Linked DNA regions of Homo sapiens. The protein of the gene in region 1 purifies or fractionates together with the protein of each later gene. This does not show direct contact. Each region holds a gene or a part of one and is shown on either strand. Other genes may lie near its edges.

Region 1 (3,587 bases):
TGTGGCAGAGGGCTAACCCTGCAGGGTGAAGTGAAACTTCTTCCTATGCATAATGGCTCCAGAGCTTTGGCAAGGACAGTGGTAGCCAACTGTGTGTTGAGTCCATTGAGTGCCTGGCCTGTCATCTTCTGCATTTTCTGAGAGACTCGCTAGAATGGCCACACTGTGACTTTCTAAGATTCCCATTTTGATAAGCAGTGGAATCGAATCCTTCCCCTACAAACCCTAAGTATGTGCTCTGCCCTTTGTTCATCACCTTCCCGTTTGCAGGACATAACATCCCCACTTCCAGCCCACAGTCCACCCTTGCCACAGAATACATGATGGACATCTCTCAGGCAGTGGCTCAGTGAGGGGTGAGGAAGTAAGAGGGTGGGCAGTCCTGAGCTCTGGGCAGAAATGATGATTCCCATATTGCTTCGAAGGGTTCACAAGGTATCAGAGGGTCGCCTGGACTCCCAGGAGCATCTGGTCTCCCAGGCCTGAAAGGTAAGGAGCATTTTTTTTTTCTTTTAATGTTTTCTTCTAGAGCAAGGTAGATTTCTAGCAGGCCCAAGGGTCTCTCTCTTTTTTTTTTTTTTTTTTTTTTTTTCTTTTTTAGGCAGAGTCTCGCTCTGTCACCTAGTGTCACCTAGGCTGGAGTGCAGTGGCGCAATCTCAGCTCACTGCAACCTCTGCCTCCCGGGTTCAAGCGATTCTCCTGCCTCAGCTTCCTAAGTAGCTGGGATTACAGGCATTAACCACCACACCCGGCTAATTTTTGTATTTTTGGTAGAGACGGATTTCACCATGTTGGTCTGGCTGGTCTCAAACTTCTGACCTCGTGGTCTGCCCACCTCAGCCTCCCAAAGTGCTGGGATTACAGGCGTGAGCCACTGCACCTGGCCATCCCAAGGGTCTCTTGCGAGGGTAGCGGAGAGTCTGTGTTTAGGGGAAAGTCAATTAATTTACATTTTCCCTTTGGCCAAACCCCTTTTGCAGTCCTTGTTCCTCACAGACAATGCAACAAACAATGGTACTTACCAAGATCTCTCTCTGTGGCTTTCATGGATCCAAGGAAAAGGCTGTCCTTTGGCTTTGTGGTTTTGCCCATCTGCTTTCCAGACTTAGCAGCGAGGAGAACCTCGGCTCCAGTCTCTTCCCCTGATAAACCCAGCCCACTAGGCAGGAAAATTTCCCATTCTTGCTGGCATCACTGTTCCATTCTGGTGATGTTTGAGGGCCCTGCCTACCATCTTCTCTGCCCATACTGAGCCTAGTGATGTGTTTCCCAATGGAGATATGCTGTATGTAGCAGCATTTCATGCCAGTAGTCTGGTAGCAGCATCCCAGCTCCTGGATGGTGGTTCATCACTTTTTACCCAATAGATAATTTTGTCAAGGAGCTCCTCTGGCTACACTGAATCTGAAAAAAAAAATGTGTTCAAAAGATCTCAGTGGTGCAAAATGAGCTATAGCTTCTCCTGGCCATTTAAACAATGTATTGGAATCCTCAGGAGACAACGGCCAGACAGTTGAAATTTCCGGTAGCCCAGGACCCAAGGGACAGCCTGGCGAATCTGGTTTTAAAGGTAAGGTTGCTATATTTTTGTCTTGTTTGCCTCACAGACTCCACAAAACTGAGGATTAGAAGGAATTTTGGAGGTCAACCCCAAGTTCTGCAACTTCTATCCAGTGCAGAAAATTTCCTATCTATCAATTCCCCAAGCAAATCAGCCTACTCTTCCTTCAAGACTCATAGACTGGCAAAGACCTTTGGGATAATGGCCTACATCCCCTTAGTTTAGAAGTTGTTATCTAAACTGTCCTTCTTGAACATTTCCACTTATTGCTCCCACTTCTGAAGGGATACTCATAACAAATTTACTTGCTTCTCAATTGTAGGGCACCTTTCTAATGTGAAAACAGCCACCACTATCTTTTTTAGAGTTTCTTCATTGGGTCTAGCTCCTTCAGCAATTCAGAATCTACTCTTTCCCATAGAGGAATACACTGCTAGAAATATGGCCTAATCACTCAGCATTTTTCTTGGTTTTATAGGCACAAAAGGAAGAGATGGACTAATAGGCAATATAGGCTTCCCTGGAAACAAAGGTGAAGATGGAAAAGTTGGTGTTTCTGGAGATGTTGGCCTTCCTGGAGCTCCAGGTACCATGCCACATGATAACCTTATTCTGAAAGAGTTTGGATTAGCTTCAAGCCATGCCCCATTCTGAACCTCTGCCTTGGTTTCACATTTAGGATTTCCAGGAGTTGCCGGCATGAGAGGAGAACCAGGACTTCCAGGTTCTTCTGGTCACCAAGGGGCAATTGGGCCTCTAGGATCCCCCGGATTAATAGGACCCAAAGGTATGTGTATTTGGGAGCAGGCAGTGGGGAAAAGTCTTTCCCTCGATGAAGGACACCAACTACTTTATCTTAGAAGATACTAGCTAGGGTTAAGCCATGCCTACAGGAGTCATTGGACATGAGGAATCATGGGAAAGGAAGATGAAGAGTAATGAAGGCAGGCAAGCATGAGTGTGAAGAGAAGAATATGGGATCCATGAAGAGAAGAGCTAGCAAGGAAGGCAATTGCCCTGGCATGTGTAGCCTTTCCCTGACTTAGAGATTGGGCAGTGAGTTTCTGGAACCAGTCTCTGGGAGCTGACAACTCAAGGTCTTGACATTGCTACTCTGAGTTCTTCTTCAAGATACCTAATGAGCTGCCATCTTACTCCTAAAGCTGTATTGGTCTCTGATAAGAGTCATGAGAACCTGTGGTGTAGGATATAGGTTGGGAGTGTTTTCTTCTCCCTTAGGGCATTAAGTAAATGCCTCAAAAAAGACCAGGACTTTAAAATAAGGACCTCGCAATGCCTTTGGGGGCAGGTAGCTACCTCTTGCTGATGCTTCATGATTCAGAGTTGCTGGAGCCATTTTTGACATTCTCTCCCCTCAGGCTTCCCTGGATTTCCTGGTTTACATGGACTGAATGGGCTTCCGGGCACCAAGGGTACCCATGGCACTCCAGGTTAGGAAGACCCTCAGGGTGAAGAGGAGGGCATCAGCTCTTCCAGAAGCCTGGCAAGGGCTGGCCATGAATTCTCGACTGTGGTGTATCCCATATCCTTGGACTCATAGCTCTCCTTATTAACCTCCAATTTGAGGTCCCTTGATATGGAGAAGAAAGAGGATGGGTTTTTTTCTTCTACTCAGATTAACTTTCTTTCTTGTTACTTCAGTACTCTGCCTCTGGTGTCTGTCAGTCAGGCTTCTCAGGCCACAGGCGAGTGAGTTAGGCAGGAAGGCCTCACCTCCACTGAGGTCTGCCCCCTACCCCTGCATCTCCTCCTAGGACCTAGTATCACCGGTGTGCCTGGGCCTGCTGGTCTCCCTGGACCCAAAGGAGAAAAAGGATATCCAGGAATTGGCATCGGAGCTCCAGGGAAGCCGGGCCTGAGAGGGCAAAAAGGTGATCGAGGTGAGTCCAAGTCAGGCCTTGTAGAGGCTGAGTGAGGCCTTGCTGGGAGAGTCAGGTTTAGGGTACAGCAGGGCCATGTGGCTCACAGGGTTGGGCTGTGAGTGTCTTCACATCTCTGGGAGTC
Region 2 (3,587 bases), on another chromosome or scaffold:
TAGTTCAAGAGATGCACTTTGAGATACACTGATCGATTCTTGTTGATGGACAACTTTCAATCTCATCAAATTAACTATAGCCAGTACTCCAAATGACTCTCAAATCTCTACCTCTAGTGCTGTCCTGTTCTTACTAGATGAAATTAACTGAGTACTGGATCCTTATATTGCAGATCTTACAAGCATCTCCAACTCCTTTTCCGGAGTGGAGGCTGCCATCTTTTCTTCACCCCTAATCTTCTTCCTGCATTCCCTTGTGACACTGCCATGACTAACTACCTAAGCCATTTAGTTATTCAACAAACATGTATCAAACACCTACCATGTGCTCAGTTTGGGGCTAAATTAGGGGATATAAGGTCAATATCAGATAGCCATGGCCCCTATCCTTATTGTGCTTAAGTGTGGGAGCACAGAAAAAAATCAAGCCAAACAACGAATGGAAGACAATAATTATAACTTTACTACACCTTGTAAGGTAGAGTGTCATGAAAAACTTTCTTGAGAAAGTGACATTTAAGCTGAGATGACTCAAGAATGAGAAGGAGCCAACCATGCAGAAGGGGGATAAGCAAGAGGACTGCGAATTCCAAGCAGAGAGAAAATACGGGCCAAGTTCTTGAGGTGGGAAAGAATGTTGAGTTTTCAAGGAATAGAAACAAAACCAGCAGGGCTAGAACATAGTATACAAGAGGAGCATGATATAAAGTAAAGCTGGAGAGATGGGAAAAGAGTGCCATTAAAAAAACAGAGCATTTTGTCCAAGGCAGTTCTTGGTCCTTTTTGAGCTCCTTGGCAGTATGGTGAAGCTTAAGAACCCCCTTCTCAGAATAAAATGTTTAAATGCATAAAATAAAATCAATAAAAAAATAAAATAAAATAAATAGTATTATGAAGAAAAGTCATTATATCAAAATATTAATAAACAAACCAGTGCTATAGTATTAAATATGCTCTTCATTAATATATTAAATAAGATCTAGTGGCAGGTCTCATAATTATCATATTTCAAAGTGGGGATGAATGCAAACAATATTTCAAGATCTCTGCAACAACAAAAATATGATTAAAAATGTCTGTGATTTCTACTGGTAACAAAGTTAGAGGTACTGCTACTACTGCTGTGGTTTGCTGTTTGCATCATAATTGAAGAAAATACTACATTGTGGCTCGAGGGTAGTAAATAACCAGATATATTAGGTTGCTGCAAAAGTAATCGCGGTCTTTGCCATTAAAAGTAATGACAAAAACCGTAATTACTTTTGTACCAACTTATAACTTTTCCCTATCCATGTTTTTAGATGCCCCAAATTCTGCTTATTCTATCTAATCTTCATGGAGAACCCTGGTTCTGTAGAAGTCTTCTAACTTAAGTAAACTATTGAGGAACCTGAGCTGAGAGTATCTCTGTGAAACCAAAAGGAAAAGGACTTCTGCTTATTACGAATGTGTACAAAAACGGTTTTTTTGTTTTTGTTTTTGAGACAGAGTCTTGCTCTTCTTCCTGGAGGGCAGTGGCCGGATCTCGGCTCACTGCAAGCTCCGCCTCCCGGGTTCATGCTATTCTCCTGCCTCAGCCTCCCAAGTAGCTGGGACTACGGGTGCCCGCCACCATGCCCGGCTAATTTTTTGTACTTTTAGTAGAGACGGGGTTTCACCGTGTTAGCCAGGATGGTCTCGATCGCCTGACCTCGTGATCCACCCACCTCAGCCTCCCAACGTGCTGAGATTACAGGCGTGAGCCACCGCGCCTGGCCCAAAAAAGGTTTCTAACCACTTTATATATTTGAGAAAATTCCAAAGAAATGTGACAATGCAAAACCAAATCTGAAAGTTGTTTTACTTTAAACATTCACTCTCAAATTATTCATTTAATAATAATTTACAAAAAGACATTTGGGGTCTTAAAAAAAAAAAAGAATAGGGACCCCACGAACTGAAGACAAGAGTAAAGGTTTTTCGTGAGAGAAAACTGGAAAGCATATAAAATAAGTATATTTCAGAAACTGACATAAACATTCATAGACTAGAAAGCTTTCCTCTTCCTATTCCCATTTAGGAAAGCATCCACTATCAGAACCTTGCTTTGTGATTCAGTGACCACCAGATGATGTCTGGAACTGCTATAGCACAGCATGTGTGAGTTGTCAAGGTGTTGGAATAAAGACACGAAAATGAAAAGCTGCACTTCTGCATTTATCACTTAAAAAATATGAAATGCTTCTGGAAAAAAACAAACTGCAACTTACTGAGAAGAAAAGTGGTCTTACTTTACATGCCATCTGTTATCTCAAAAAGCCTTAGTGGACAGTGGTATTCTCTGACACATTAAGCATTAACACAATATAGCATAATAGTTATAGCACATGTTCTGAGGTCAAACTGGCCAGGCTGGAATCCCAGCTCTACCACCAACTAGCTGTGTGATGTGGGGCAAATAACTTTTCTTATCCTCAGTATGCCACCTGAAAAATAACCTGCCTCATGGGGTTGCTGTGAGAAATTAAGATGAAATATATACAATAAAATGCTTCACACAGTTCTGCCACAGAATGCAGTAAAAATGGTCAGTCAATCTTAGCTGCTATTAAAGCATTCTTAAAAGTTCTGGAAAAGAACAAGTTCTCCCTCCTTTCCCCAATCCCATTACCTCTGTCAAATAGCCAGTTGAGTTCACAAACTTCTCAAATTCAGTATTACTGACTTCATAGGCATCCATGTAAAAGGCATCAATAGTAACTCTCCTCGCAGGTGCTTCCCCATCCTGCTTTATCTGAGGATCATCTGTGCCCATTGTAAATACTCCAGCAGGGATGGGGACCATCTACAATGAAAGGTGAAACACAGGAAGTCATGCATCACAGCCAAGGTGTACCTGTGTAGGGGTAAAGTTCCTAGCACCCAGGAAGCACGCAAGTTTGTAAATCTTCACCACAGTAATAACTGTAAAATTCGGAAAAATCTCTCTATACCCCAAAGAAGGTGAATCACGAGTCTCAAAAAGAAGTGAAAATTCTTTAAGAAGGTAATCTCCTTAATCAAACCACTACTTGATACAAATCTGTACCTGCACTGGAAACAGGTCTGGAATAACAGTCACCAAGCCGCTAACGGCTAGAATGCAGAGGTAGCGAGAATATCCCACTTTTCTTTTTTTTTTGAGACAGGTTCTCACTCTTTTGCCCAGGCTGGGGTGCAGTGGCATGATCAGGGCTCACTACAGCATTGACTTCCCAGACTCAAGCGATTCCCCCAACTCAGTCTCTCAAACAGCTGGAGTACAGACATGTGCCACCATGCCCAACTAATTTTTTTTTTTTTTTTTGAGACGGAGTCTTGCTCTGTCGCCCCAGGCTGGAGTACAGTGGCACAATCACGGCTCACTGCAACCTCCACCTCCCGGGTCCAAGTGATTCTCCTGCCTCAGCCTCCTGAGTAGCTGGGATTACAGGCGCCCACCACCATGCCCGGCTAATTTTTGTATTTTTAGCAGAGACAGGTTTTCACCAAGTTGGCCAGGCTGGTCTTGAACTCCTGACCTCAGGTGATCCACCCGCCTCGGCCTCCCAAAGTGCTAGGATTACAGG

Evidence for each region.
Region 2: the proteins of COL4A6 (region 1) and SUMF1 fractionate together in Homo sapiens (co-fractionation; one large-scale study listed by BioGRID). This does not show direct contact.

What each region holds. Positions count from the first base shown.
Region 1 is NC_000023.11:108,169,371-108,172,957, reverse strand, and holds part of COL4A6 (collagen alpha-6(IV) chain isoform B precursor), read left to right. Parts: intron 1-425; coding exon 426-489; intron 490-1,496; coding exon 1,497-1,571; intron 1,572-2,040; coding exon 2,041-2,148; intron 2,149-2,241; coding exon 2,242-2,349; intron 2,350-2,941; coding exon 2,942-3,013; intron 3,014-3,337; coding exon 3,338-3,463; intron 3,464-3,587. UniProt on the Homo sapiens protein: Type IV collagen is the major structural component of glomerular basement membranes (GBM), forming a 'chicken-wire' meshwork together with laminins, proteoglycans and entactin/nidogen.
Region 2 is NC_000003.12:4,450,226-4,453,812, forward strand, and holds part of SUMF1 (formylglycine-generating enzyme isoform 1 precursor), read right to left. Parts: intron 2,825-3,587; coding exon 2,651-2,824; intron 1-2,650.